3 separate regions of the Homo sapiens genome follow, and all the other regions are linked to region 3. The links come from fine-mapping of genetic effects on gene expression. A gene starts in region 3. Each other region holds a variant in brackets. All regions are shown on one strand. Distances are between the middles of the regions.

What was found. PIP is the estimated chance that this variant, and not a neighbour inherited with it, causes the effect. A credible set is the group of variants that fine-mapping cannot tell apart.
Region 1: its variant is the best candidate, but not a certain one, in a credible set for the expression of C1orf122 in whole blood (INTERVAL, PIP 0.67).
Region 2: its variant is the best candidate, but not a certain one, in a credible set for the expression of C1orf122 in whole blood (INTERVAL, PIP 0.50).

Annotation. Positions count from the first base shown.
Region 1 is chr1:37,830,855-37,841,249 of GRCh38, reverse strand. MTF1 (metal regulatory transcription factor 1) reads left to right here. Exons shown (of 11, transcript NM_005955.3): 3 at 1,092-1,330; 4 at 2,494-2,625; 5 at 5,506-5,579; 6 at 6,035-6,171; 7 at 8,928-9,005. It also overlaps the pseudogene RPS2P13. Among named protein-coding and RNA genes, the nearest start is that of MTF1, 24 kb to the left of the region's middle. The variant C/T (reference allele first, on the strand shown) is at 5,446.
Region 2 is chr1:37,890,307-37,900,701 of GRCh38, reverse strand. It overlaps INPP5B (inositol polyphosphate-5-phosphatase B), which reads left to right. Exons shown (of 24, transcript NM_005540.3): 8 at 9,248-9,344. Among named protein-coding and RNA genes, the nearest start is that of MTF1, 36 kb to the right of the region's middle. The variant A/G (reference allele first, on the strand shown) is at 5,357.
Region 3 is chr1:37,802,764-37,813,158 of GRCh38, reverse strand. It overlaps C1orf122 (chromosome 1 open reading frame 122), which reads right to left and starts at 5,369. Exons shown (of 3, transcript NM_198446.3): 1 at 4,720-5,369; 2 at 4,427-4,628; 3 at 3,705-4,181. The coding sequence starts at 4,754. The coding sequence ends at 4,086. It overlaps YRDC (yrdC N6-threonylcarbamoyltransferase domain containing), which reads left to right and starts at 4,951. Exons shown (of 5, transcript NM_024640.4): 1 at 4,951-5,367; 2 at 5,944-6,058; 3 at 6,183-6,302; 4 at 8,715-8,857; 5 at 9,162-10,214. The coding sequence starts at 4,979. The coding sequence ends at 9,234. It overlaps MTF1 (metal regulatory transcription factor 1), which reads left to right. Exons shown (of 11, transcript NM_005955.3): 11 at 1-3,585. RefSeq lists silencers at 4,312-4,861, 5,042-5,301.

The DNA.
Region 1 (10,395 bases), 28 kb before region 3:
GATGACATTGGCAACCTCCTTGGAGCACTGAACATCCAGACCGATGTGGCCACCGTAGTCCCCGATGGCCTTGAACCTGGTGTGCTGGCCAGCGCGGGTCTGCTTTTGCAGAGGTGTAGTCTTCAAAAGCTCATCCTCGAGAGGTGACCCCAGCAAAAAGTCAATGATCTCAGACTCCTTAATGGGCAGGGAGAAGAGCTAGACCTTCTCCAGGGACTTGATCTTCATGTCCTGGACCAGGCAGCCCAGCTTGGTGATGGGCATCCACTCCTTGTTCTCAGCCTTGCCTCTGAGAGCTCCATGGCCTCAGCCCTGGCTCCAGGCCAACCACAGCCATGACCCTGGCCCCAATATCCCTGCCAAAGTCTCTGAGGAAGCTGCTGGGCCTCCCATTCCAGGCCCTCCACTGCACTAGAGTCATCTGCCATTTGATATTTGTCGGAGAAGCAGCTTTTTTTTTTTTCTTAACCTTCTGCCATGAGGTGAAGAATTGACTCCCCTTTCAAGAAGTTTGATGGTGAAAGGAAACAAGAGGCTGGCAGTTTGAGAATTATCACATCACCAAATCTTCCAAGAAATTTGCAATATGTTGTTGTCATTTTGTAGGCTTGAAAATATGCAGTGGAAACAATCTAGGGAAATATGTTTGATGATTAAGTATGTAAATTTCCAGATGTTTTAAACTCAATTTAATATTGGTAATTCCAATCAAGTTGTAGTTCTGGAGGTCAGGGTGTTTAGTCAAGCCTTAAAACAAAGTTAAGATCTTATCTGAATACAGGTAGCTGTAACAGTATAGTGTACTTTTAGTGGGTAGATGTATATAGAGTCTGAAAACATTCTTATGTTCATTTAGAATATTCATCTACATATAGACTTATTTCTTCCCCATAAATCATTATGTGTTGTCCAGGTATGATTTGATCAACAATAAGGTTTTTCCACTTTGCTGCTAGAGGCTGTTTTCTGTGTTTATGATGAAAACCCAGTTGTATTGTCCACAGCATCTCTTGGGAGCTGAGCTCTGGGTGGGGGAGTTAAGCCCTGGGCAGCATTTTTGTCCTGTTGATGAGGTATCTTTTCTCTGCCAGGTAAAGCGGTACCAATGTACCTTTGAGGGCTGTCCCCGCACCTACAGCACAGCAGGCAACCTGCGAACCCACCAGAAGACTCACCGAGGAGAGTACACCTTTGTCTGTAATCAGGAGGGCTGTGGCAAAGCCTTCCTTACCTCTTACAGCCTCAGGATCCACGTGCGAGTGCACACGAAGGAGAAGCCATTTGAGTGTGACGTGCAGGGCTGTGAGAAGGCATTCAACACACTGTACAGGTCAGTCTCGTCTCCAATGCTCTGCCAGCCTCTGACCTTGACCTTGTTGTGATGGCAGAGCTCTTTCCCCTTGCAGAGGAGTTGTTTTCACTTTCAGGGCTTTAAAAGAGCGCAGCTGTGTTCAACTACGTAAAATTCATTTCTGCCAGATCTCAGAAAATGAAAGAAAAAAATTTAAAAATGCATTAGAGAAACCTGTTACTTAAAGATGGACGTATCTTGGGCTGGTTAGAAGCGACAGTACATTTCTGTTTAGATTTGCATCTCATGGAGCAGCATTCTGGCCTGGGCATTTCAGTGCTTGGCATAGAGTACTATCTCCCCTTGGCTCAGGATCTTTGTGCTAAGGCTTCTGTCCTACCTAAGCTTGAAGGACTTTTCTATCCTGAGAAATGGGGAGTGGCCTATTCAGTAGCCAATTCTCTTTTTCACGTTTGTATCAGGAGACTTAATAGTCTTCAGTATTGAGTATAAAGTAATAGAAATAACAGTAGCTAACACTTAAAAATACTCACTGTGTGCTAGGCATGATTCCAAGTGCTAGTCCCCACAATAGCTGATAAGTAAATGGAAGCACAGAGGGGTTCTATAACTAGCTTAAGTTTCCCCATCCAAGCAGGATGTGGGGTCAGGATTTGAATCCCAGGAAGTCTGTCTCCAGAGTCACACTCATACCACTGTGCTATTCTCTGCGTTTCTTTTGGGGCAAAATATGTTGGATACTAATATGTTATGGGTATAGAATTCTTACGCACTTGATCCTGAAGCACATTAAGCTGGCATGGGGAGGCTCTGTAGAACTTTATGACAAAGGGAGGCCAGGCGCAGTGGCTCATGCCTGTTATCCCAGCACTTTGGGAGGCCGAGGCAGGCGGATCACCTGAGGTCAGGAGTTCGAGACCAGCCTGGCCAACCTGGTGAAACCCCGTTGTACTAAAAATACAAAAATTAGCCAGGCGTGGTTGTGGGCTCCCATAATCCCATCTACTTGGGAGGCTGAGGCAGGAGAATCGCTTGAACCTAGCAGGAGGAGGTTGCAGTGAGCCGAGACTGCGCCATTGCACTCCAGCCTGGGCGACAAGAGCGAAACTCTGTCTCAGAAAAAAAAAAAAAAAAAAAAAAGAATTTTATGACAAAGGGAATTTTTCTGGAATATTTTGCAGGCTGAAAGCACATCAGAGGCTTCACACAGGGAAAACGTTTAACTGTGAATCTGAAGGCTGCAGCAAATACTTCACCACACTCAGTGATCTGAGGAAGCACATTCGAACTCATACAGGGGAAAAGCCATTTCGGTAGGTCTTACTGTTTTCTATTTGTCACTGACCAGGTTTCAGCTGGGGGTCTTGATATACTCTGGAATTTTTCAAAAAAGAAAGAAAACTCCCTTTACTAGCTCTTGATTTAGCAGTGTTAGCTCACCCCAGGACAGCTATAACCAACCACTGCAGATTAGAGGGGTGCTGATGGAGTCCAAGAACATCCTTACTCTGTGGATGATGGCCTTTCTGCCTCATTTTTTCCCATTTATTTCCAAGAAGCATTTGTTGAAACTCAGTTATGTGGTGGGTACTTTTATTAGTGCTAGAGAAATACTCCGAAGCAGGCCTTCTTCTTAAGAACCTTTGTCTGGTGACAAAAAACCACAAATTTGTGGATAATATCTGAGGCTGCAAGATGGCCAAAGTGCCTTAAGCCCAGAGGAGGGATACCTACCTAAGAATCAAGGAGGGAGGGAATGAGGAGACAAGAGAGGAAATGAGAGGTAGGGATGCTTAGCTTAGTGGTGCAGTTGTTACTTGTTCAAATTATTGCTTTGTAATATCTCGTGTGTATACACAAACATATAGGAGCATCCATTTTTATTCATATATGTCAACATATGTATATCTAATAGATACATTTACTATAAACTTGAAGGAGGGACTTGGGTTATCTACTTTCTTCTCTGCTCATAGTATATAGCATGATTCCAGGCATTCAACAGGTATTCAAAATCAGCTTTGGGATGATTATATGACATTTTTAATGAGATAATCAGTTTGTAAGGATTTCCCCTAAATGTAATATAGATAGATGTATTGCCAAAAACTGCCCATAAACAATGTCTTTGAGGCCGGGCATGGCGGCTCATGCCTGTAATTCCAGCAATTTGGGAGGCTGAGGCAGGTGGATCATGTGAGGTTAGGAGTTTAAGACCAGCCTGGCCAACATGGTGAGACCACATCTCTACTAAAACTACAAAAATCAGCCAGGCGTGGTGTCACATGCCTATAGTCCCAGCTACTCTGGAGGCTGAGGCAGGAGAATTGCTGGAACCAGAGAGGCGGAGGTTGTGGTGAGCCAAGATTGTGCCATTGCACTCCAGCCTAGATGACAGAGTGAGACTCTGTCTCAAAAAAAATAAAAATAAAAAAAAAATAAACAATGTATTTGAATTTTGGCAGGGGATATTCAAGGCATTAGATATGCTACCTGTTCCTTCTTAAACCACTCGTTTTGTTAGGGTACTTAGAAATAAAAAGTCGTTAGAGACAGTCAACTCTTAGATGCCAATCAAATGGAATTGTGGGCTGGGCTTATGTCTGTAATCCCAGTGCTTTGGGAGACTGAGGTGGGAGGATCACTTGAGCCCAGGAGTTCAAGACCAGCTTGGGCAAGTGAGACCCTGACTCTACAGAAAATTTTAAAATTAGTTGGGAGTGGTGGCGCATGCGTGTGGTCCCAGCTATTTAGGAGGCTGAGGTGGGAAGATTGCTTGAGCCTGGGAGGTCAAGGCTGTAGTGAGCCATGGTCATGCCACTACACTCCAGCCTGGGCAACAGAGAGAGACCATGTCTCAGAAAAAAAAGGAATTGTGTTTTTAAGTTACAGATGCATTCCTGAGTCATGATCCCTTTAAGGGCAAGAGTAGTTAGATTGTAATTGGTTACTCTACAGATGGATGCTGTGAAGCTTAGGTTATTCCCCGCCGCCCCCCTTCCCGTAGGCTGCTGAGAGGACTCTGATTTCTATCCAGTCACATGCATTTATTTTTGTGATGATTAAAACTGCATTTTTCTTGAATATTCAATGAGACTTTAGACATGATGATGATTGCATGTAATTAAAAATGAAAATGCTTTAGAGAAGCTTTCTATTTAAAGAAATAAAATATTTTGGTTTATAAGAAAATGCATTCATTCATATAAGTAATTAAGGAATGTCTGCTATGTGCAGGAACTACAGAAAGAGCTACGTGGATCCTGTACTCAAGTAGTTTACACTCTAGGAGAGCAGATACCAGATGTATCCACAGAGAAAATAAGATTGGAAATGAGAGTTGCCATAAAAGAAATGTAAAGAAAAGCCTTAGGAGTTCTGAGGAGGGAAAGATTCCTTTTAGCTTTGGTTATCAAGACAGTAAAAGAGAATGAAGTAGATCTCGACACACAAGATTATAGATAAGTTACTTGAGCCTATCTTCTGATTGATTTTGTTCTTATGTTACATTGCAAGCCATGTACATATTTGAGAGCCACTTTGCTTACTCTTGATATTCCTAATGTTCCACTGGCAGATTTTTCATATGGACTGTCACTGTCAACAGAGGTCTGTTAAGTAATTCATCAAAAGACTTTTGTTGTCAGGGCTCTCAACATGGACCTTACCTGTAGGACAAGAAATACTTATCCTGGGCTCTCAGTTCTCTCTGATCCCAGATATGCCACCTTACTTTTTCAAGAACCTCTCATCATTCCCATCTCTAAAACCAGTGTCATTGATCTGATCTTAGTGTTCTGAATATTTGTTTTAGTTTCTATTTATAAGAGATGTTCAGAGGCCAGGCACAGTGGTTCACGTCTGTAATCCCAGCACTTGGGAGGCCGAGGCGGGCGGATCACAAGGTCAGGAGATCGAGACCATCCTGGCTAACATGGTGAAACCTTGTCTCTACTAAAAATACAAAAAATTAGCTGGGCGTGGTGGTGGGCACCTGTAGTCCCAGCTACTCGGGAGGCTGAGGCAGGAGAATGGCATGAACCCGGGAGGTGGAGCTTGCAGTGAGCCAAGATTGCGCCACTGCACTCCAGCCTTGGGGACAGAGCGAGACTCGATCTCAAAAAAAAAAAAGA[C/T]GTTCAGGATAAAGATCTATTAGCTAATGACTCCTGTTTCTCTTTCCTTAACAAATTTAGGTGCGATCACGATGGCTGTGGAAAAGCATTTGCAGCAAGCCACCACCTTAAAACTCACGTTCGTACACATACTGGTGAGTTTAGGCCAATTTTTGTTTCATCAAGCCTGTAACTATCAATTTTCCATTGAGACCTGTAGAGCTAGGTGGATATACAGAGATATAGATCCTGTATATATTCAGGTGAGCATAATTAGCTCAGCCTTACCTAGAATGTTTGGGTTTCTTTCAGAGGCGGACCTCAGGTATTCAACCTTAAGAGATGAAACCAATACAGAGACACTCTAAAAAAAAACAACCTGTGAGAAACAAATCTACTCTTTAAACTTCCCAGCAGTAGGCATTCCCAATGCTTTGCTCAGCATTGAGTTTGAGGACTGAGATGATTAATGTGTAATTTATTGAACTTTTAACAACTGTTACCCAAACTCTCTTAAAAATACTTACTTACCTCTATTAGGGAAAGGTAGATTTCTTAATCCAGTGAAATGACTTTATGGTAAATTAACACTACTTTGTTATTCTTGCAGGTGAAAGACCCTTCTTCTGCCCCAGTAATGGCTGTGAGAAAACATTCAGCACTCAATACAGTCTCAAAAGTCACATGAAAGGTCATGATAACAAAGGACACTCATACAATGCACTTCCACAACACAATGGATCAGAGGTGTGTAGTGTTTTTGTCTCTTGATCTGGGTACCATAGAACTTCAACAGTTGTTTGTGTATCACAATCAAAGGTTAAAATGTCTTCTCTGTATATCTGTTAGTGAGCGGGAAGAAGTCAGGGTCAAGATCAGTGTCTTGACTTGTGTATTTAACCACCTACTCGACGTCTTCACCCAGATATCATCTACTCTTGTCAAACTTAACATGTCCAAACCTGTTCTTCCTGCAGTCTTCCTCGTCTTGGTAAATGGCGGCTCTGGTTTTCTAGTGGCAAAGGCCAAAAATCTTATAGTCATTCTTGACTCTTTTTTCCCTCACACTCCACATCCGCCAGCAAAGTCTGCCAGCTCATCCTTGATAATTTATCTAGAATCCCATCACTTCTTCTGATTACTTCATTCAGTCTACTGTTGTCTTTTTGCCTGGATTATTGCAATAACCTGTTAAGTGAGCTTCTTAGGACCTTTTCCCCCTCTTCTGTCCACTCCACAATAGACTGTCCTACATATATCAGCCAGAGTGATCTTTCTGAACCATAAAGCAGATAATGTCTGTCCTCTGCTCATAACCCACAGTAGCTTTTTAAATTTTTATTTTATAGATTTTTAAAAATTATTTTAATAGAGATAAGGTCCAAGCAGTCTTTCCCTTCCCCCACCCCCGCCGCCCCCACCCTCTGTCTCAGCCTCCCAAAGTGCTGGGATTACAGGCATGAGCCACCCCACCTGGCCTCCAGTAGCTTCCTGTATCACTTGAAGTAAAAGTCAGTCTTTATAGTAGGCTATAGGGCCCTACACATTCTGGCCTGGTTGCTTCTCTGATCTCATCTACCTCGCTTTTATTTTTGTTTTATTTCATTTTATTTGAAACAGGGTCTTGCTCTGTCCTGTAGGCTGGAGTGTAGTGGTGCAATCTCTGCTCACTGTGACCTCCACCTCCCTGGCTCAGGGATCCTCCCAACTAGCTGGGACCACAGGCATGCACCACCACACCCAGGTTTTTTTTGTGTTTTTAGTAGAGATGTGGTCTTCACCATGTTGCCTGGGCCGGTCTTGCACTCCTAAGCTTAAGTGATCTGTCTGCCTTGGCCTCCCAAAGTACCGGGATTACAGATGTGAGCCACTGTGCCCTGCCTACTTTTCTTCCTCTCACTTCAGCCATATGGTCCTCTTTGTGGTTTCTTGAACCAAGGAGTGTCCACTCCTGCCCCTAGGCCTTTATACTTGCTGTACCCTCTGCTTGGAACATCTTCTCTAGATATGTGCATGGTTGATACCCTCTTTCCTTCACTCTCTACTCAAATGCCACTTACCTAAAAGGGCTTCCCTAACCACCCAATAAAAGAGCAACTCCTATCCCAGAGTTCCCTACTGCCCTTACTCTCCATAACACTTATCCTCTTGCACATTGTATATTTATTTGTTTTTTGTCCTCTCTGCTAGAACGTAAGCTCTACGTGGGGAGGAGTTTAGTTTGTTCATTAATGTATCCCTGGGTCTGGAACGGTGTCTAATACATAGTAGATGCATTATGAATGTTTGTTGAGTGTGTGCATGAATAGGAGCATCTGAGGTAAGCAGGGCTACCACCTAAAGTGTGAATTGTGACTGGCATTCTGGGACTCCAGAGTTCACTTAGTCTGGGCAGTGGAATTTGAATTCTAAATCCCCAGTACCACTCTGAGTAAGGAGCCTTTCAGTGCCCATGTGGGAAACACAGTGGTGGAAGGACCATTGACTTTTCAGTCAGAAGCACTGGATTTGTCTTCTGCTAATTAGCTGTGTGTTTGGGGGCACTTGATTCCTACTGTCTGAGCATCAGTTTTCTGATATTTAAAATGGGAATATAAGTTTGTGGCAATTTGTTACAAAAAGAATAAAAAATGGGGATATAGAGTAATACTTCCAAGGTTTATATGAATGGCAAATGAGGTCCTGTGAAATCACTGTAAATGATGAGACCAGGTATACAGATAGTATTAATTTCACATTATTATAGGTTTGTTACTTTGGAGCCTTAGTCATAAGATAATGTTAAAACTCTTTATTATTATTATTATTTTTTTTTTTTTGAGACAGAGTCTCACTCTTGTCGCCCAGGCTGGAGTGCAGTGGCGTGATCTTGGCTCCCTGCAACCTCTGCCGCCCAGGTTCAAGTGATTCTCCTGCCTCAGCCTCCCGAGTAGCTGGGATTACAGGCACACACCACCGCGCCTAGCTAATTTTTTGTATTTTTAGTAGAGATGGGGTTTCACTATGTTGGCCAGGCTGGTCTCGAATTCCTGACCTTGTGACCCACCTGCCTCAGACTCCCAAATTGCTGGGATTACAGGCGTGAGCCACCACTCTCAGCCTCTAAAACTCTTTATTAATCATTTTTAAGAAATGTAAGATATTCTTGTAAGAATATCAGGATTTTTAAAAATTAACTAATTCACGGGGTGGGGCAGGGGAGGGATAGCATTAGGAGATATACTTAATGTAAATGATGAGTTAATGGGTGCAGCGCGCCAGCATAGTACATGTATACATAATGTAACAAACCTGCACATTGTGCACATGTACCCTAGAACATAAAGTATAATTTAAAAAAAATTAATTCATTTAGCCCTTGCTTTGGTTGGCTTATACTTCTTCAGATAATACATGTAGACATGTGGAACATTAGGGACTTTGTAATCAAATGTTTTGTTACATGATATGCCACTGTAAATCCTGATTTTTGTTACTCAATTAGAATTTTTTCTCTTTCACAGGATACAAATCACTCACTTTGTCTAAGTGACTTGAGCCTTCTGTCCACAGATTCTGAATTGCGAGAAAATTCCAGTACGGTAAGTGTACCTGTAATACCAGTGCTAGAAAAATAAGGGCAAGAATTAAGCACTCCCTTTGGTGGGAAAATTGAGGCAGGCCAGTCTTTGAAGTTTTCTAAATTTAATTGTGTTTAATTACTGACCATGTAGGATTTTTTCTTCTTCTGATAAGAGTTCTATTAGAGCCTGTTCTCTCTGATGCCTGATTCCTTTTGACGCAGGTCACTCACTCGGTAACCTGGCCCCAGAAAATTTCTTTTTTTTACTCATTTAGCAAATATTTATTGACCAGGCACTGTGCCAGTACTGAGCTTATAGTAGTTAAAAATGTTGGTATAGTTTGTCCTTGAGGAACTTAAAGTCTAGTACTGTAAGACATAACCAGAATTCTAGTTTCTGGACTTTCTCAAATCCTATCTATATGACCTGGCTTGGTCTTTTCCTTTTTCATTTTAATTTTATTTATTTATTTTTTTTCTGTGCAATGGGGAGAGAAAAATTTCCCTTCTTTAGGTTTATTAGCTTTTTGAAGAAAACCTCTTACACATATAGAGGCCTCTATCTGCTAAAGGACAAGCCCACTTTATCTTAATCTGATTGCTTTGATTCAAGCTGTTAGGAAATTTGACTGCCATTCCCATGGCTCCATGATGCAACTTACAAACCAATGCATTGAGTCTGAGCTTATGCAGCCTCCTCCATGTTGAACATGAGAGTTTTATAGTATTGCTAACACTAATTTTGAGTTTGGGTTTTTTGTTGTCGTTTTTCCTGGTAAATAAATATAGCATAGGCTAGATTTTCTGTGATTATGTGCATAATGAATAAATATGATGGGAAGTATTTGAACAGAGACTGAATGATTCAGGAATGCTGTGAAAGAGTGGTTAGTGGAGTCAATTACAGCACTTCTGAAGTTGTAGGTTCTTGGGCCTCCCCCCAAGCCTGCTGAGTCAGCTTGTCTGACCGTGGCATCTGAACCTGCATTTTTATGTAAGCACGACAAGGCCTAATTCTCCTTCTGGTAGTGGCAGAGTTGCTCTTATGAGACCAACTCTCCCGCAGAAAACAGCTAAAAATTCTAGACAAAATATAAAAAACAACTGTGGAAAGGCACTGGTGAGCAACCAATAGCAAGCAGAGGTAACCTTGGAAGAAGGGATTGCTTGGAAGATGGTAAAGGCACTGGGTAGGCTTGCAAGTTTTATGGCTTATCCACCTTGGGCAAGCCCCAGTTGGCACCCAACGAGGCAGCCAAACTTATAAAAACTCAATCTTACTGGCTTGAATAACCAGAGGACAGAGTTCAGGGTGGCCACAGCACCTGGAAAGTGAAGGCAGGTAGCCTGGAAAGGAAAGAGTCACTAAGGGGGAGCCCCAAGTTCTGTGTATAAACTCTCTCCGAATC
Region 2 (10,395 bases), 88 kb before region 3:
AGCTGAGATTACCCCACTGTACTCTGGCCTGGGTGACAGAGTGAGTGAGACTCTGTCTCAAAAAAAAAAAAGAAAAAAAAAAAGAAAAATTCAAAGTAAACATGGAGATCTGTGGGAACACCAGACAAACTTCCAGTTGAAAGTAGTTCAGCCGGGCGCAGTGGCTCACGCCTGTAATCCCGGCACTTTGAGAGGCTGAGGCGGGCGGATCATGAAGTCAGGAGTTCAAGACCAGCCTGACCAACATTGTGAAACCCCGTCTCTACTAAAAATACAAAAATTAGCTGTGTGTGGTGGCACGTGCCTGTAATCCCAGCTACTCAGGAGGCTGAGGCAGGAGAATCGCTTGAACCTTGGAGGCGGAGGTTGCAGTGAGTTGAGATCGCACCATTGCACTCCATCCTGGGTGACAAGAGAGACTCTGTCTCAAAAAAAAAAAACCGAAAACAAAAATTAGCTGGGTGTGGTGGCATCTGCCTGTAGTCCCAGCTACGCAGGAGGCTGAAGCACGAGAATTGCTTGAACCCAGGAGGCAGAGGCTGCAGTGAGCTGAGATTGCCCCACTGCACTCTAGCCTGGGTGACAGAGTGAGTGAGACGCTGTCTCAAAAAAAAAAAAAAAAAAAAAATTCAAGGTAAACATGGAGATCTGTGGGAACACCAGACAAACTTCCAGTGGAACGTAGTTCAGCCGGGCACAGTGGCTCACGCCTGTAATCCTAGCACTCTGGGAGGCCAAGGCGGGCGGATCATGAAGTCAGGAGACCGAGATCATCCCGGCTAACACGGTGAAACCCCGTCTCTACTAAAAATACAAAGAAATTAGCTGGGTGTGGTGGCGGACTCCTGTAGTCCCGGATACTCGGGAGGCTGAGGCAGGAGAATGGCGTGAACCCGGCAGGCGAAGCTTCAGTGAGCCGAGATCGTGCCGCTGCACTTCAGCCTGGGCGACAGAGCAAGACTCCATAAAAAAAAAAAAAAAAGATGAAATGGAAATCTTTTTATGTGTATTATTTTTTCAAATTGCTACTAAGTTGTTAGGACTTAAATACTTATTTGGCCCTAACTACTTAAGTAGAACTGTTAGGGATTCCTTTTGGCCTAGAGGTACCTTGAGAAAATTATTATTATTATTATTTTGAGGCAGAGTTTCGCTCTTGTTGCCCAGGCTGGAGAGCAATGGTGCGATCTCGGCTCACCGCAACCTCTGCCTCCCAGGTTCAAGCGATTTTCTTGCCTCACCTTCCTGAGTAGCTGGGATTACAGGCATGTGCTACCACGGCTGGCTATTTTGTATTTTAAGTAGAGACGGGGTTTCTCCATGTTGGTCAGGCTGGTCTCGAACTCCCAACCTCAGGTGATTTGCCCACCTCGGCCTCCCAAAGTGGTGTTGGGATTACAGGTGTGAGCCACTGCGTCTGGCCTCAGAATTGTTAATCAGGACCCCCATGGAACACCATTATCAACTAGAGTACAATGCTTCTGTACAGTTCCACTTGCCTTTAGTCTTTTTTTTTTTTTTTTTGACAGTTTCACTCTTGTTGCCCAGGCTGGAGTGCAATGGCGCGATCTCGGCTCACTGCAACCTCCGCCTCTCGGGTTCAAGCGATTCTCTTGCCTCAGCCTCCCAAGTAGCTGGGATTACAGGCATGCGCCACCACACCTGGCTAATTTTGCATTTTTGGTAGAGATGGGGTTTCTCCATGTTGGTCAGGTTAGTCTCGACCTCCCGACCTCAGGGGATCCGCCTGCCTCAGCCTTCCAGAGTACTGGGATTACAGACGTGAGCCACTGCTCCTGGTGCCTTTAGTCTTATAGATACCACTCATTTCTAAAGTTACTTAGGTAAACACTTTTTCCCCTACTCCCTTCAATGAGGTGGTTTCATACCTTTGTGATATAGGTTAGACACTTTTGTCATTTTCTGCATTTTACTCCAGAATCTCCTGACGTCCTAAATGATTTTTTAAAATTTTGTATACATTAAGGTTCATTCTTTTTTTTTTTTTGAGACAGAGTCTCACCTTTCGCCCAGGCCAGAGTGCAGTGGCGCGATCTCGGCTCACTGCAAGCTCCACCTCCTGGGTTCACACCATTCTCCTGCCTCAGCCTCCCGAGTAGCTGGGACTACAGGTGCCTGCCACCGCTCCCGGCTAAATATTTGTATTTTTAGTAGAGATGGGGTTTCACCGTGTTAGTCAGGATAGTCTCGATTTCCTGACCTCGTGATCCACCCGCCTCGGCCTCCCAAAGTGCTGGGATTACAGGCGTGCGCCACCGTGCCCAGCCCAGTTTCATTCTTTGTGTTGTAAAAATCTGTGGGTTTTGAAAGCTATAGATACTACCATGTATCACCATTATAGTTTCTTTTGAGTATAGTTTTGCTGTCCTAAAAAGTCCCCTGTTCTTCATTTATTTGACCCCACCCTCACCCCCAAAACCCCTGGCAACCATTGATCTGTTTACCGTCTCTATAGTTTTGTCTTATCCAGAATGTTGTGTAATTGGAATCATATAATAAATAGCCTTTTCAGATGGACTTCCTTCACTCAGCAATATGCATTTAAGATTCATTCATGTATTTTCATGGCTTGATAACTAATTTTTCTAATTGCTTAATATTTTATTATATGGATGTATCACAGTTTATTCATCTGTTGAAATATATCTTGGTTGCTTCCAGTTTTTGGTGATTTTAACGCTGCTATAAACTTTTCTGTGCAGGTTTTTATGTGTACAAAAATTATTTTTCTTGCCATATTTTTTAGAGGTGGGATCTCCCTCTGTCACCCAGGCTGGAGTGCAGTGACAAGATCACACCTCACTGCAGCCTTGAACTCCTGGGCTCAAGTAACCATCCCTCCCCAGCCTCCCAAGTAGCTAGGACTATGGGCATGTGCCACTACTTTTATCTTATTTTATTTTTATTTTTATTTAATTTTATTTTATTATTATTATTATCATTATTTTTAATTGATCATTCTTGGGTGTTTCTCGCAGAGGGGGATTTGGCAGGGTCACAGGACAATAGTGGAGGGAAGGTCAGCAGATAAACAAGTGAACAAAGGTCTCTGGTTTTCCTAGGCAGAGGACCCTTCGGCCTTCCGCAGTGTTTGTGTCCCTGGGTACTTGAGATTAGGGAGTGGTGATGACTCTTAAGGAGCATGCTGCCTTCAAGCATCTGTTTAACAAAGCACATCTTGCACCGCCCTTAATCCATTCAACCCTGAGTGGATACAGCGCATGTTTCAGAGAGCACAGGGTTGGGGGTAAGGTCACCGATCAACAGGATCCCAAGGCAGAAGAATTTTTCTTAGTACAGAACAAAATGAAAAGTCTCCCATGTCTACCTCTTTCTACACAGACACGGCAACCATCCGATTTCTCAATCTTTTCCCCACCTTCCCCCCCTTTCTATTCCACAAAACCGCCATTGTCATCATGGCCCGTTCTCAATGAGCTGTTGGGTACACCTCCCAGACGGGGTGGTGGCCGGGCAGAGGGGCTCCTCACTTCCCAGTAGGCGCGGCCAGGCAGAGGCGCCCCTCACCTCCCGGACAGGGCGGCTGGCCGGACGGGGGTCTGACCCCCCCGACCTCCCTCCTGGACGGGGCGGCTGGCCGGGCAGAGGGGCTCCTCACTTCCCAGTAGGGGCAGCCGGGCAGAGGTGCCCCTCACCTCCCGGACGGGGCGGCTGGCCGGGCGGGGGGCTGACCCCCCCACCTCCCTCCCGGACGGGGCGGCTGGCCGGGCAGAGTGGCTCCTCACTTCCCAGTAGGGGCGGCTGGGCAGAGCGCCCCTCACTTCCCGGATGGGGCGGCTGGCCGGGCAGAGGGGCTCCTCACTTCCCCGTAGGGGCGGCTAGGCAGAGGCGCCCCTCACCTCCCGGACAGGGCGGCTGGCCGGGCAGGGGGCTGACCCCCCCACCTCCCTCCCTCCGGGACGGGGCGGCTGGCCGGGCGGGGGGCTGACTCCCCCACCTCCCTCCCGGACGGGGCGGCTGGCCGGGCAGAGGGGCTCCTCACTTCCCAGTAGGGGCGGCCGGGCAGAGGCGCCCCTCACCTCCCGGACGGGGCGGCTGGCCGGGCGGGGGGCTGACCCCCCCACCTCCTTCCCGGACGGAGCGGCTGGCCGGGCAGAGGGGCTCCTCAGTTCCCAGTAGGGGCGGCCGGGCAGAGGCGCCCCTCACCTGCCGGACGGGGCGGCTGGCCGGGCGGGGGGCTGATCCCCCCACCTCCCTCCCGGACGGGGCAGCTGGCCGGGCGGGGGGCTGACCCCCCCACCTCCCTCCCGGACGAGGTGGCTGCCGGGCGGAGACGCTCCTCACTTCTCAGACGGGGCGGCTGCCGGGCGGAGGGGCTCCTCACTTCTCAGACGGGGCGGTTGCCAGGCAGAGGGTCTCCTCACTTCTCAGACGGGGCGGCTGCCGGGCGGAGGGGCTCCTCACTTCTCAGACGGGGCGGTTGCCAGGCAGAGGGTCTCCTCACTTCTCAGACGGGGCGGCCGGGCAGAGACGCTCCTCACATCCCGGACGGGGCGGCAGGGCAGAGGTGCTCCCCACATCTCAGACGATGGGCGGCCGGGCAGAGACGCTCCTCACTTCCCAGATGTGATGGCGGCCGGGAAGAGGCGCTCCTCACTTCCTAGATGGGATGGCGGCCGGGCAGAGACGCTCCTCACTTTCCAGACTGGGCAGCCAGGCAGAGGGGCTCCTCACATCCCAGACGATGGGCGGCCAGGCGGAGACGCTCCTCACTTCCCAGACGGGGTGGTGGCCGGGCAGAGGCTGCAATCTCAGCACTTTGGGAGGCCAAGGCAGGCTGCTGGGAGGTGGAGGTTGTAGCGAGCCGAGATCACGCCACTGCACTCCAGCCTGGGCACCATTGAGCACTGAGTGAACGAGACTCCGTCTGCAATCCCGGCACCTCAGGAGGCCGAGGCTGGCGGATCACTCGCGGTTAGGAGCTGGAGACCAGCCCGGCCAACACAGCGAATCCCCGTCTCCACCAAAAAAATACGAAAACCAGTCAGGCGTGGCGGCGCGCGCCTGCAATCGCAGGCACTCGGCAAGCTGAGGCAGGAGAATCAGGCAGGGAGGTTGCAGTGAGCCGAGATGGCAGCAGTACCGTCCAGCTTCGGCTCGGCATCAGAGGGAGACCGTGGAAAGAGAGGGAGAGGGAGACTGTGGGGAGAGAGAGAGGGAGGGGGAGGGGGAGAGGGAGAGGGATTTTATTATTTTTTAAGAGATAGGGGTCTCTATTGTCCAAGCTGATCTCAAACTCCTGGGCTCAAGCAGTCCTCCTGCCTCAGCCTCCCGAATAGCTGGGACTATAGGCACAAGCCATGGTGCACCCAGC[A/G]TACTTTCAGATCAGTAAATATCTAGGAGTGTCATGGGTAGAACATATGGTAAGACTGTTTAACTTTTTAAGAAACTGCCAAGCTGTCTTCCAAAGTGTCTGTATGATTTTCCATGCCTACTATCAATGGATGAGAGTCATGGCTCCTCTGCATCCTTGTCAGCAATTGGAATTGTCAGCTGGTTTTCTTTTTTTTAAATTTCAGTCATTCTAACAGATGTCCCCAATACACCATTACTAACTCAAATACCTTAGCTCTCTAAGCTTTATTATAGCTCAGTGAGAGTAAAGAAAGAGAAGTAGAATCCAGCTGGGGATTGCATTTCTAGAAATAATTATTAAGTAACTATGGGTTAGTAGAACTCTAGACATAACCCATTCTAGTTCTCCTTTCTTATTTTTGTTATATTTTGGAGACAATGGGAAGATTACCTGAAACATTCCAAAAGAATGCTACAGACTTGAACTTGGATGTTACGTATTTAAACATATAAGGCACACAGGGGCCGGGTATAGTGGCTCATGCCCGTAATCCCAGCACTGGGAGACCTGACGTCAGGAGTTTGAGACCAGCCTGGCCAACATGGCAAAACCCGTCTCTACCAAAAATACAAAAATTACTTGAGTGTGGTGTTGCGTGTCTCTAATCCCAGCTACTCGGGAGGCTGAGGCAGGAGAATAGCTTGAACCCGGGAGGCAGAGGTTGCAAAGAGCCAAGCTTGCGCCACTGCACTCCAGCCTGGGCAACAGAGCGAGACCCTGTCTCAAAAAAAAAAAAAAAAAAGAAAAAAGAAAAACATAGACGCATGGGGATTCAGGTTCATTGCGCATTTAATATTGAATTGTGTGACTGTACTGCCTATAATGTGCTGGGTGGTATGCTGAATGATGGGGATACAGTGATGCATAAATCAGACAAAGTCTAGTCCTCAGTAAGCTTACAGTCTAACTGGGAAGAAAAAACACCTACAGTACACAGCAATCAAGACTGTGATGGGGAGTACAGGGAGCTATGGAAACACCAATGTCAGGGCATCTAACCAGCCTAGGAGAGGTTAGAGAAGTCTTCTTGGAGGAAATGACCTCTAAGATATGGCCTATAGCAGGAGTTGGTGAAGTGCAGCCTATAGGCCAAATCCAGCCTGCCATCTGCTTTGGTACAGCTCATGAGCTAAGAATGATTTTTTGCATTTTTAAATGTTTGAAAAGATTCAAGAGAATAATGCTTTGTGATATGTGAAAATTGTATGATATTCAAATTTGAGCATCTTTAAATAACATTTCGTTAGAATGCAGCCACACTCACAGCTGCTTTTGCACTATAGCAGCAGAGTTGAACAGTTGCAAGAGACTGTATGACCTGCAAAGCCTAGGATATTTACTCTGTGGCCCTTTACAGAAAAAGTTTACTGACCCCTGGCACAGGATGGGTAGGAGTTAGCCTTATAAAGCAGAATGAAGAAGAGGGAAGTTGCTTTCTGACGGGATCTTTGCATAGCTGCAGTAACCTTAATATGCTTAGAGCATGGCATCAAGGAGGTAGGGGCTGAAGGACTGTGGTGAGTATTGGGGCTAGAGCAGTGGGTAGGATCCAGACTGGGAAGAGCCTTGGCAATTGTATGTATGGATTTGGGTTTATCCAGTATGAAGCCTTTAAAAGATTTAAAGTGATGTGATCCGATTTACTTTTTAAAAAATCCTCTGGCCACAGTGTAGAAACTGGGTTGGAGAGGGTGGGGTGAGAAAAGAGGCAGGGAAACTAGTTGAGGCTTTTATAGTCATTCAGGGGAGATGTTGGTAACCTAGACTAGCACAGTGACACTGGGGATAGGAATATATTGGTTTGAGAGGCATTTAGGAAGCAAAATTGAAAGGCTTTGGTGTCTTAGTTTTTAGCCTTAGTCTGTAGGCTGTTATAACAAAATACCATAGACTGAGTGGTTTATAAGCAACAGAGATTTGGCTGGGTGTGATGGCTCACACCTGTAATCCCAGCACTTTGAGAGGCTAAGGCAGGAGGATCATTTGAGCTCAAGAGTTCGAGACCAGCCTGGGAAACATGGCAAAACTCCATCTCTACAAAAAAATACAAAAAGTTAGCTGGGCATGGTGGCTTGTGCCTGTTAATCCCAGCTACCAGAGAGCCTGAGGTGGGAGGATCACATGAGCCCTGGAGGTCAAGGCTACAGTGAACCATGATCAGGCTGCTGTACTCCAGCCTGGAGACCCTGTCCCAAAAAAAAAAAAAAAAAAAAAAAAAGAAAAAGAAAATAATAAAAAAACATACAGGAAAAACACCACAAAACAAAAGCAGAGATCAGAGATTTATTTTTCACAGTTTTGGAGGCTGAGAAGTCCAAGATCAAGGTGCTGGCAGATTCAATGTCTGGTGAGGGCCTGCTTTCTGGCTTAGTGGCAGCTGTCTTTTTTCACTGTGTTCTCACATAGCAAAAGGGGAACTCTAGTCTCCTCAACCCTTATAAGGGCACTAATCCCAATCATGAGGGCTCCACCCTTGTGACCTAAACACCTCACACCTAAAGGCCCCAACTCCTAGTATGTTATCTTGGGGGTTAGGATTTCAACATATGACTTTGGGCAGGGGTATAAATAATCAGTCTATAGCATTTGGTGATTGATTGGAGGCATTGAGGTGTAATTATTTTCATGTTCAAATGATTATGCTTTCTTTTTTCAAAAGTTTTTTTCTGGTTCATGTGAATGCATGGTTGAGAAATCCATGTTTAGTAATAGTCTTCGCAGCAAAATTCTTCAGTGGTGTTTCATTCCTCCAGAGCTCCTTCCCATAACTTGGGTTTTAAAATCACATCTCTCTGTGACCGCTTCATGTTGTTCCCTGTTGACAAGAGATCTGGCTTTTAAAGAGCAGAGAAGCTATTGGCAGATTAATTTTCCTTTCCAGGTTTATCTTGGTTTAACGACTTTCCCAAAATATTTCTGGGTTGGGCCCTTGGGCTCTTTGGTTTTCAAGGCAATTTGTCAACAATGACAAGCGCTTCTCATTTTCTAGAGCTCTTAGACTATTTCCAGTTTTAATCTCTGACCCTTGCCTTTCTCCTCTTCAGAGTGGAAGTCGCTATGTTATGTTTTATAATATGTTGTATTGCTTTTAAAGTGCCTACTCATATGTCAACTCAGTTGACCCTACATTAAACCTGTGAAGAAGGCAGGACAGGTCAAATTACTGAGATTGAGAGAGGTTAGATGGCTTTTCCAAAGTCAGGAGGTAATAAATAATAAAGCAGGTGATAAAACTCAGGTTTTCAGATTTCATGGTTTTATTCTTTCCTTAATGTACCCTTTATCCAAGAAAAGGGAGTTAGACTAGCTGGAATAGTTACACTTTCAGCAGTAAAGATACCTGGATGAGATACTTTTTTCTCCTTCTGTGTATGGTCTGTGGGACTTCACCCAGACATCAGCATAGGCCCTTTGAAGCAATATGTGGACTACCAATAATTCCTAGACTACAATTTCCGAAGCTGTTGTCTGTATATTAAAGCATATGTATGTTTCATTTATTTATTTATTTGTTTGTTTGTTTGTTTTTGAGATGGAGTTTTGCTCTTGTTGCCCAGGCTGGAGTGCAACGGCACGATCTTGGCTCACTGCAACCTCCGCCTCCCGGGTTCAAGCGATTCTCCTGCCTCAGCCTCCCGAGTAATTGGGATTACAGGCATGCACCACCATGCCTGGCTAATTTTGTATTTTTAGTAGAGACGGGGTTTCTCCATGTTGGTCAGGCTGGTCTCGAACTCCCGACCTCAGGTGATCCACCTACCTTGGCCTCCCAAAGTGCTGGGATTACAGGCATGAGCCACCATGTCCAGCCTATGTATGTATATTTTAATTTCTTCTCCTTCCCTTTAGGTGGTTCTAACTTTGATGGTTTGAGACCAAATGGGAAGGGAGTGCCTATGGACCAAAGCTCCAGGGGTCAAGATAAACCAGAAAGCTTGCAACCAAGGTAATGCAACTCTCCCTTCACTTGTCCCTTGTAGGACTGAGGTTCTCCTCACAGTACTGAGACCATTTTGGGTATAATGTAAGTTGTCCCAGGGTAGCTGGCCTAGGAAGTGTCCTTTTTTTTTTTTTTTGAGACAGAGTTTCGCTCTTACTGCCCAGGCTGGAGTTCAGTGGCATGATCTCGGCTCACCGCAACCTCCACCTCCTGGGTTCAAGTGATTCTCCTGCCTCAGCTTTCTTGAGTAGCTGGGATTACAGGAATGTGCCACCACACCTGGCTAATTTTGTATTTTTAATAGAGATGGGTTTTCTCCATGTTGGTCAGGCTGGTCTCGAACTTGTGACCTCATCTGATCCTCCCATCTTGGCTTCCCAAAGTGCTGGGATTACAGGCATGAGCCACCGTGCCTGGCTGGAAATGTTCTTAATAATACCTGACATTTATTTGCACTTACTGCCAGGCACCCTGCTCTTATTTGGACTATCTTATTTTAGCCTAAGAGGTAAGTACTTTTTTCTGTTTTACAGTTAGGGAAACTCAGGTAATGAGAAGTTATATAACTCACCCAAGGTCCCAGAATTATCAAGTGGTCAATCTAGGATTTGGAACTGGCAGTCTAGCCCTCCCTTGAAAATGTAGATTAGAAACGTTTGATTTCACTCTTTCATTCTTTTAGGTGTTTCCTGACTCTGAAGTGACTTTTTTTCCTGTTTTATTTACTCTTTCCTGACTCGCCCCTGAGGTGTGTTATTATATAAATATCTGAAGTCTGTACTCCAGTGCCCCCTACTGAATATCTCCAGAATCTGTCTGGTCAAGATAAAACACTTACTTGTATCAGTATTTTAGTTACGACTATAAATACAGTACAATGCAAATAATAATAAAATATAAATTCTCATTGCCTTTCTTTTTATTTTGGATTATTCCTGTGGAATAGATGTACAGAATAGAATGATCAAGTTAAAGGACCTAGAGGGTTTTACAGTTTTTTTCTTTTTTTTTCTTTTGAGACAGAGTCTCACTTTGTCACCCAGTCACTGCAGCCTCC
Region 3 (10,395 bases):
ACAGGCATGCGCCACCACGCCTGGCTAATTTTGTATTTTTAGTAGAGACGGGGTTTCTCCATGTTGGTCAGGCTGGTCTCGAACTCCCAACGTCAGGTGATCCTCCCGCCTCAGTCTCCCAAAGTGCTGGGATTACAGGTGTGAGCCACCATGCCTGGTCTAGGGAATTGACTTCTTTTTGACCTTCTGCACTCCCTTCCCCAAAAGGATTGTGGCTTCTGTTGACCATTGACCTCAGCAGAAGTTGATAAGGCAGGAGGTTTCCAGTCCTCCTGGAAAACCAACTGCTGAGCATGAGTTGTCCTTGGCTGTCTCTGGGCCTCGCACCCATGGGAAGTTTTGAGGTAGGGCCCTTGCTGTTTACAACTTCTGAGAGAGTAGTGATGGGACCCCAAAGTAAGCTTGTATCAGAGGGCAGTAATGACCTTCCCATATCCCCATCCTGTGGTCACCTGGGATTTGGGTTCCCTGGGGCGGAAGTGGGAAATAGGAGCCCAGGGAAGGACATCTGAAGCACCCACAGTTTAAATAGCGACTCTTCTTGGTTAGCCAGGGCTGTGCTCATGTTGGGCCCTACCCAGGTCAGTGGCCTTTTCACTCTCAAAGATCGGGGGTGACGAAGCAGCATCTTAAACAGTGTTTAGGCTGACAGATTTTTCCAGTTGAAGAAGCTGAAGTATCTGCCTTTTGAGGGTGACTCTAGATTACAAGAGAGACTATCAGATCCAATCAGCTTTTGAAAAATCAGGAATGTGCTTAAAATGCCAGTGAGTGGTTGTGAAGATCAGGTTTATTTCCCAGGATAGGCAGTCTTTCTTTCCCTCCTTTTCCAGTTCTCTTTTCCTACCTGTCCTTCCATAAGCCTGGTCTCTAGTGCCGAGGACCTTGGAGAAGAGAGGGCCCCTAGCTAAGCTGGAGCCAGAAAGAACCTTCATGGTGAGTGTGGTTTCCCAAACTTGGGAAATGAACCTAGGGTGAGGTTAGGGAGGATTTGTAGAATTCTAGCAGGTAAAAATCAAGCCTTTTTCCCCTCCCATAGTAAACTTAACCATTTTCACCCTGTACGTTATCTTCTAGCTCCTACTAACATCTCCAATTAGACAACCGCTTCAAAGGGTGCTTAGCACCAGGGATTGGGGTTCATGGACTTAGGAGGTGGTAAGGAAACTGGCTGGCACCACCAAACTGCCTTAGTGAACTTGGCCCTTCCCAGGCAGGTAGGTTGGGCATTGAGGGAAGGTGGCCCAGTCTTTGCTGGCAGGGTCTGGCCAGTCTCATGGGGGCACCACCAGTTTGGTGACAGAAGTGGTGTCATTTATTGAATTCCACCTCCGTTTAGAAGGAGATCATGGTACAAAGCCCAGGAGGGGCCTTAAGATGTGAAGATCTCTCTGAGTAAAAGGCAAGGGGCTTCTCTTCTTCACCTCTGGGATAGTTGGTAGATCGGAGAGTTTTATTTTCAGGGTCAAGGCTGTGGACTGATGGGGATATTGGAGGGTGGGTGGGTTTTCCTGAGAGACTTTGTATAATGCTGAATGTGTCCAGAGGGACAAGTTTGCAGAACCTCATATTGGTATATTAAAGAAATAATAAAATAAAAAAGCACTTTAGGTTATTTTATCTTTAACCCGATTGCTGCAATTTCTTTTGTGTGTATATATACATATATATACTTTCCACAAAGTTTTATTTTTTGCTCAGAATAAAAAGTTAAATTGAGGTGTGAAAAGAAAAGCACTTACCTTGGTGCAATATGTGTAGCTTGATGGTCGTTGTCCCATGTGGCCCTGGCCTGGCAGCGTTTTTCCGCTCAATCAGCCCTGTGCTGTGAGACTGTCCATAGGGAAACACTATTATGCATTCTCAGCAACCGCTCAATCTATGCAAGCCTTCCCTGTGTGCCCCAGGGCGCCCCCTCAGGCTCTCTGAAGAACTGCTGTGGGTCCTGTTTTCTGCTGACTGTTGAGGCCCTTTTTCATCACTTCTTGGTCTCTCGCCATCTTTTCCCTCTTCACCATTACAAAATGATGCCTGAAAGGAAGGAACAGATTGTTCCTAGGTAGAAACCTGGCACCTTCTAGACTTTTATATTTGTAATCACATCCATTGTCCTTAAAGACTTTTCCAGAGTGATTGAAACCATTGATTTGTGGAACTGCAACAATATTTCTCAAGAGTTTACAATTGTCTTACACCACCAATCAGAAATATGTTTGGGGAGGCATGGGTGGCAGGGGGCAACATGAGCCATTTCCATACTGCTCCCCATACTACCTGTGTTGGTTCCTTAAGCAAAAAGGCCTCCAGCCTTCATTAAATCCTATAAACAAACATTACATCCCATGAATCATTATCAACTTTCTTCCTTTACTCCACCTCCCCCATTTTATCTTCAATTCTCAGGCTATAGAATAGACAAGTTTTAGAATATACTTCAGCCAAAGCAGAAGGATTTTCATAGATCCAATATGCAAATAGTTCTGCTGTGACATAGATCAGAAATTGTCTGTTCCTTAATATTTGGGGGTGGAGGCAACAAAACTGAAGCATATTTCTGATTGGTTAGCCATTTTGGCCTGTTTCCTCTTGCATGTTTTTTAGGGAGAGAGGGAAACAGTCCTGTATTTCTTCTGATGCCCTTTGGGGAAGCCGACGACCACTGGGCATTTCTCACTGTTACTCCTGTTCAAGAGAGGGCTTCTCAGTCTGCACTGAAAAATGCAAATTAAACTGGATCTTTATGTCAATGTGTACATAGTACAAGCTTTTTTACTGGAATTGAGGTTTAAAACCACACACTGCCCTTTTGGTGGTGTGCCTGTTGGGCCAAAAATTGGGTGATAATGTAGTGTCACTTTCTCAGCTCAATGCAGTTTCTACTTTTTCTTATGGGAAAATTTTTCATAAAACCTTTTTGCACCAAAACCCAGGGGTGTTTTTTGCAATATCCTTGTTATCCTCGTAGTGTGCCAAGTCAGAGGCTTTCTCTTGCCCTTTTCCTGCTGTGTTCTCAGGCCTCCCAAGGGCTATTTGACTCAACAGTCTACATCCTTCGTTGTGTTTTGGAGAATGTGGGGGTGGGGGTCAGAGTTCAAGGTGTCTGTTCCCTTTTCCTGTGAACTCTTTCTAGTCCCTATTTGGGGAGGGTGGCTGGAAACAGATTTTTGCTGAATTTCTGGCTCAGATCTTCTAGCCAGGAAAGGCAAGAGCCCCCAAGAGCCCTTTTTTTTGACATACACTAATCATTGGCCGGGGTCTTGGTGACAACTTTTAAAATCCCAAATAGTTTTATTTGGATTATGTAAAAGTAAGTGTGAAACATGGGAACAACGGACTTCCACTGAGCGATGTGAAAACGTTACAGGTTCAGTACTTCCAAAGGAAGAAACCTCCAAACCCAAAAAAGAATAAATATGAATTTGTATTTTTGAAGAATGTGAAATAATGGTGTTTGCTTAATTGCTCATTTTGTATAAACTTAATATTGTACTTTAAAATATCTGCTAAAAAGTGAAAATTTAACTTTTTGGAATTGAAAAAGCAATATTAAATACTAATGAAATCCTAATTAAATGCTTATTTAAATCTGGTAGTATCTGTGGCATTTCTTACCAACCCTGCCCATAGTTGACATTTTTCCACCACTCCCCCCTTCCCAGCCATCAGTCTTGGAGAGGGGACAGAAAGGAAACGTCGGTCACCAGGAGAGTCTGCAGGTTTCCTTTTAATCAAGGCTCTACTGAAGGTGTTTTGTGGGGCTAAAAGCCCCCAAAACATGAAATGGACATGTAACACCACCTGGATCCCCCATAGCAGGCCAGACCACTCTGGCGAGCACTGCTGGTCTGCCCAAATCTGGGTAATCAGACTGGGTATTCATTGGCTGCATTTCAAAGCACAGCACTGCTTTCAGCCAGGATGAAGTGGGAGTGAACCCAGCTGCTAGCAGAGCTGCCACTCCAGGCTGAGAGCCAAGTACCAGCCACTGCCAGTGAAGACTGGCCCCTTTACTGAAGGGAGTTGTTCAGAGTCCAGCCACCGGCCCTGGGGAGGGAGAGAAGTCAGGGTATTCTGCTCGGGGATGGTCAGGGCTCCGCAGCTCCATCGCCAGCATCCTTTGGAAAGCCGCCTCTGGCGGAGACAGCCGGCTGGGGGGGCGCTCCAGGTTTGGCTGAGACGTTCTAGTTGGAACAGAAAGGAAAAAAGTGAGGCTGGGAGGCAAGGCCTTGGATTAGGCCCCACAAGGATGTGGCCATTTGGCATTTGGATAGTATTAACTTTTTCGAAACCTCTCACCAGATCAAAGGAGGTTAGGGATAAAGCGGCGGAGACATACTTCCCCCCTCCAGGGTAAGCTAGGGCTTGGCCAGCCTAGCCAGTGGGCAGACCCCACCCCACCCCAGCCCAGCCCAGGGTGGGCACTAACCCCGCCACCAGCCGGCTCCGGGCGCCGGCGGCCCAGCTGCCGTAACATCTCCTCGCAGGCTGCGATGGTGTCCAGGAGCTGCCGCTGCCGCTGCTCCACCGCGTCCAGCAGCTGCTGGGCGCGCTCCTCCCGGGGCGGCTGTGGGGGTGGCCTCCCGCCGAGCCCCAGCCCCGCCTTCCCGCGGTCCACGCCGGCAGCCTCCCTGCCCGGGAGAGAGCGAGAGACAGACGGTCAGGGCCGGCGCTTGCGCGGGGCCAAGCCCCTTCCTCCCGCCCCGACGGGCCCCCTCTCACCCCCGTGACCAGTCTGAGCCCGGGCCCCATTCCATCTCCGCTTGCGCGGCCCGACCACCGCCCCCCTTTCGGCCGCCCCCCTCCCCAGCGCTGCGTTAGGGCTTCGCAAGGCTGCGCCCCGCCCCGTCCCCACCGGTCTCCTTCAATCCTCCTGGGGGTCGTGGTCCCTTTAAGCTGCCCGGCGCAGAGGCGGGGCCGAGTCTCCTGGACCGGAAGCTGGCTGGGAGCGTCACTTCCTCCCGGAAGCGGGCCTGGGCGGATGTCTCCGGCGCGTCGGTGCAGGGGGATGAGGGCCGCGGTGGCTGCCAGCGTGGGGTTGAGCGAGGGGCCTGCTGGCTCCCGGAGCGGTCGCCTCTTCCGCCCGCCGAGTCCCGCTCCGGCGGCCCCCGGCGCCCGGCTGTTGCGGCTCCCGGGGAGCGGGGCCGTGCAGGCCGCGAGCCCGGAGCGCGCCGGCTGGACCGAGGCGCTGCGGGCCGCCGTGGCCGAGCTGCGCGCCGGCGCCGTGGTGGCCGTCCCCACCGATACGCTGTACGGCCTGGCCTGCGCGGCGAGCTGCTCGGCGGCTCTGCGCGCTGTGTACCGCCTCAAGGGTCGCAGCGAGGCCAAGCCTCTGGCCGTATGCCTCGGCCGCGTGGCCGACGTCTACAGGTAAGGCCGCCCCGACCCGGCCCCGCTAGGGGCGGCACCGCGGGAGGGGTTTCCGGTGACAGGCTTGGGAGACTGAGGCGCAGAGAGCGGGAGGGGCTTGTCCAGGCTCACCAAGGAATCCGGAACTGGAAATATGTACCGAGGACTTAACGTGCCCCGGGCCCTGAACTACATGCTGCTGGGAAGCAGCAACACACGAGAAAGGCAGGGACCCTGTTCCCTTGGCGTATTTGTGCTAATTGGGGAGGCCCCCGGGAAAAAAGCAAACAAACACAGTAGCTTAATTTAATAGCGAATGCCTTGAAGAAAATAAAACGTGGAGCTTGATCCCACTATCATGATATCACAGCGGTGCAGCTGTTGTAGTCCCTGAGACCAGAGGCACATGGGCGTCAAGCCAGGGGTGCGCCTCTGGAGCCCTGCTTTCTGCTCAAGCTCTTAGGGAGGTGAAGCAGGGAGACAGGCGGCTCCCATTGTAAACTCGAAGGATTCCTTTTCTACGTCTGCCTAGAGTCTAGGAAAGGACCACCAGTGGCCCTTCAATTTTGAATGGATTTATTCTTCTGTGTTTCCCAGATACTGCCGTGTGAGAGTACCTGAGGGGCTCCTGAAAGACCTACTGCCAGGACCAGTGACCCTGGTGATGGAACGCTCGGAGGAGCTCAACAAGGACCTAAACCCTTTTACGCCTGTGAGTCAAGTTTTCTCTTGTGTCCCCAGACTCCAGGCCACTTGGCTTTCACTAGGATCCAGATAAGACTTACCCTCTTATCCCTTCCAACCTTTCTCATGATCCCTTTCCCCTTGCCTTACAGCTTGTAGGCATTCGGATTCCTGATCATGCTTTTATGCAAGACTTGGCTCAGATGTTTGAGGGTCCGCTTGCTCTCACTAGTGCCAACCTCAGCTCCCAGGCCAGTTCTCTGAATGTCGAGGTGAGTTTACCCAGTCCTTCCCCTGGAAATGTCACCAGCGCACATACTGTTTTCTGTGAATCAGTGGCATTGATAGTACACTGGGATGGCCAGGCATGAGAGTTCTTGGGCCAACAGTGGGAAGGTTGCCCAGCTGGCAGGGAGGTGGTGGGGGGCAATATAAATTAAAAAAATTTGAAAGATTTTATCTCAAAGTCTGAAAAGCCAGGGGGAGAATTGGTCTTTTCTTCAGTCTTTATAATAATAGGAAAGATTATAAGAACAATGTCTTCCTGTTTTTCTGGAGATAACAGTTTCTGGAGAACACAGTTAGGCTATAAATCTTCACGACAGTGCTGTAAAGAAAGATGAAGAAGGCCAAGGGCAGTGGCTCATGCCTGTGACCCCAGCACTTTGGGAGGCCCAAGCAGGTGGATCATGTGAGGTCAGGAGTTTGAGACCAGCCTGGCTAACATGGCAAAACTCCATCTCTAATAAAAAATACAAAGATTAGCCAGACATGGTGGCGCATGCCTGTAATCCCAGCTACTTGGGAGGCTGAGGCAGGAGAATCACTTGAACCTGGGAGGCAGAGGTTACAGTGAGCTCAGATTGTGCCACTGTACTCCAGGCAGGGCTCTAGAGCGAGACTCTGTCTCTTAAAAAAAAAAAAAAAGATGAAGTTTAGCCTCCAGAAAGTTAAATCACTTGTTCCAGGTCACACAGCCATTAAGTGACTGACTCAGATTTTTAACCAGTTTTTGATTCTCGCCCCTGTTCTCTTATCTCTGCCACAAGCCAGATCAAAGAAAGGATCATCCTAATCCTTTCTTGGCTACATAGATTAGAACAAAGGAGGACACATAGAAATTTCGTTTTTTTTCTTATTACTAAGATGTAAAACGTAGTAATAAGCTACATTGTGTCCCCAGACTCGGCCAGACACATAGTATCACACATAGTATCCAGCATCAGGCCTTGGGCCTTCCTTGGGCTTATTACATCCAGCTAATAAGCCTGGATAGAGTAACTTGCGTGCAGTCACATAGAGATACGATGGAAAGTCCAGAGTTAGAGCCCGTATCCCTGCTCAGAACTCCATTCGATGGGTTTTCCATTCCCAGACCTAGAGTGGGGCTCAGGGTTCTTAGAAAGTGAGAGTTCAGCATCCCTTCCCATTCTCAGAGTGCAGGTTTGACTTGGTCCTGGTGGCTGTACCCCAGGAGCAAGAATCGGGATGTGGCACAGGGAGGGGAGGTTTTTACCTTGTCAGCAATCATTTGACCTGTCCAACACAGTAACTGGTATTTATGATTTCCTGTCCCAGATTTCCAGGCCTAACTGCCACTGCAGTGTCTTCCTTGGGGGGTTGGGGAAGCTCTAGCTCAGTTAACAATTCAGTCCACTGCTCTAGGGGGAGTATCCTTCTCATAGCCCAAAGACTGAGTGCTGGTGGCATGCAGAATCTACCATGTTCTACTCTTCCTACCCTGATCAGAGTCGCAGTGAGATCCAGGAGCATAGTTCTAGAGCTAGAAGGAGCTGGAATCACTTGTTCCAGGTTACGCAGCCATTAAGTGACCAGATTTTTACCTAGTTTTTTTTTGTTTTGTTTTGTTTGAGACAGTCTCACTCTCTTGCCCAGGCTGGAGTGCAGTGGCACCATCTCAGCTCACTGCAACCTCCATCTCCCGGGTTCAAACAGTTCTCCTGCCTCAGCCTCCCGAGTGAGTAGCTGGGATTACAGGCGTGTGCCACCATGCCCGGCTAATTTTTGTATTTTTAGTAGAGATGGGGTTTCACTATGTTGACCAGGCTAGTCTCAAACTCCTGGCCTCAAGAGATCCAGCCTCCCAAAGTGCTGAGATTACAGGCGTGAGCCACCATGCCTGGTCTTTTTACCTAGTTTTTGACTCTTGACCCTGTTCTCTTATCTTTGCGGCAAGCCAGGTCAAAGAAAAGATCATCCTAGTCCTGTCTTGGCTACATAGATTAGAACAAATGAAATGAGGACATAGGATCATCTAGTCCAGCCCACTTGTCTTGTAGGCCTGGATAGAGTAACTTGCATGCAGTCACACGGAGATACGATGGAAAGTCTAGAGTTATAGCCCGTATCTCTGCCCAGAACTCCATTCATTGTACTTATATTTCCCTAACTGAAGCAATGTGTGAAATTTCCTTTTGACATAGCAAGATTTTCTTTAAACCCTAGATAGGTGTTACTTGGAGTGCTAACCCAGGAGGCCTCCAAACCTCATAGAATACAGTGTCTTTGGCACAGTTGACCTTAACTAAATGAAGCTCCTTTCTCTGCTTAGAGGAAAGTGCCTTCTGTTTTAAGACTATATGGCCTTTGATGACTGCGTGCAGTTTGACATTATTGGATACACCAGGGATAGTGTCCATGCTCTTCCTTCTCCCTCTTCTCAGGAGTTCCAGGATCTCTGGCCTCAGTTGTCCTTGGTTATTGATGGGGGACAAATTGGGGATGGCCAGAGCCCCGAGTGTCGCCTTGGCTCAACTGTGGTTGATTTGTCTGTGCCCGGAAAGTTTGGCATCATTCGTCCAGGCTGGTAAGTCTCTTTCCTGTGGTGTGGGGAAATAATTTGAGGGAGGTTGGAGAGATGCAAAAAAGCTTTGACAAGATAAAGATGGTGCCTCCTATGTTGCCCTGAAGGAGTGTGGGCCAGGTTTGGAGAAGTGGTAGTTGCAGTGGGACTAAGTTTCCTGGCTTTCTTAGGATTCAAAAGGTTTCATCAAGGGTTGATGAACAGGGCTTAACAAGGCTAGCCAGTTTCGATGTCCCTGCTCACCAGCCTCTGGTGGGCTCGGGACTTCTGAGAAGTCAGACTGGTAACTGTCCTGTTTCCTCCTCAGTGCCCTGGAAAGTACTACAGCCATCCTCCAACAGAAGTACGGACTGCTCCCCTCACATGCGTCCTACCTGTGAAACTCTGGGAAGCAGGAAGGCCCAAGACCTGGTGCTGGATACTATGTGTCTGTCCACTGACGACTGTCAAGGCCTCATTTGCAGAGGCCACCGGAGCTAGGGCACTAGCCTGACTTTTAAGGCAGTGTGTCTTTCTGAGCACTGTAGACCAAGCCCTTGGAGCTGCTGGTTTAGCCTTGCACCTGGGGAAAGGATGTATTTATTTGTATTTTCATATATCAGCCAAAAGCTGAATGGAAAAGTTAAGAACATTCCTAGGTGGCCTTATTCTAATAAGTTTCTTCTGTCTGTTTTGTTTTTCAATTGAAAAGTAATTAAATAACAGATTTAGAATCTAGTGAGAGCCTCCTCTCTGGTGGGTGGTGGCATTTAAGGTTCAAACCAGCCAGAAGTGCTGGTGCTGTTTAAAAAGTCTCAGGTGGCTGCGTGTGGTGGCTCATGCCTGTAATCCCAACATTCTGGGAGGCCCAGGCGGGAGAACTGCTTGAGCCCAGGAGTTCAGAATCAGCCTGGGCAACATAGCAATACTCCGTCTCATAAAAATTAATAAATAAAAAGTCTCAGGTGACCAAAGGCTCCTGAAGCTAGAACCAGGTTTGGATAAAGATTGAAGAGCCACAGGCCACTCTTCCCTCTGAGCCATTGGGCCTAGTGGTGTCATGTATTGTAATTGCTCGCAGGGAGAGCAGTCTTTTTGGTGTAATAGTGGGATGTCTGCTTAGTTGGCAGGGGTTCAGTCCAAATGGAAGAATATTGGGAAATAAACCTCCACTATCCTTTATAGCCAGGGACTTTTTTCTTATTTATTCATAAAATAAATTATAGTTAATTATACCCATAACACCTTTATTTAAATCCAGTGTTCTCCGCAGCCTTTTGTCTATTTATATGTGTACCAAGTGTTAAACATAATTATTATTGGGCATTTGAACTTTGTTTTTCTTTAAAGAAATGCTGCTATTAAACATATTTGTAAATGGTTTGTTTTTCTTCTTTTGAATTATTTCCTTAGGAGAGTAGGTCAAAGTGTAGGAAGTATTTATGGCTCTCAGTATGGATTAGCCTTCAAAAGAACTGAGTCAAGTTACACTGCTGTTAGCAGTGTGTGAGAATGGCTGCCTCTGCCCCCTGGCCTTCCCATGTTTAGTATTTTTCAGATTG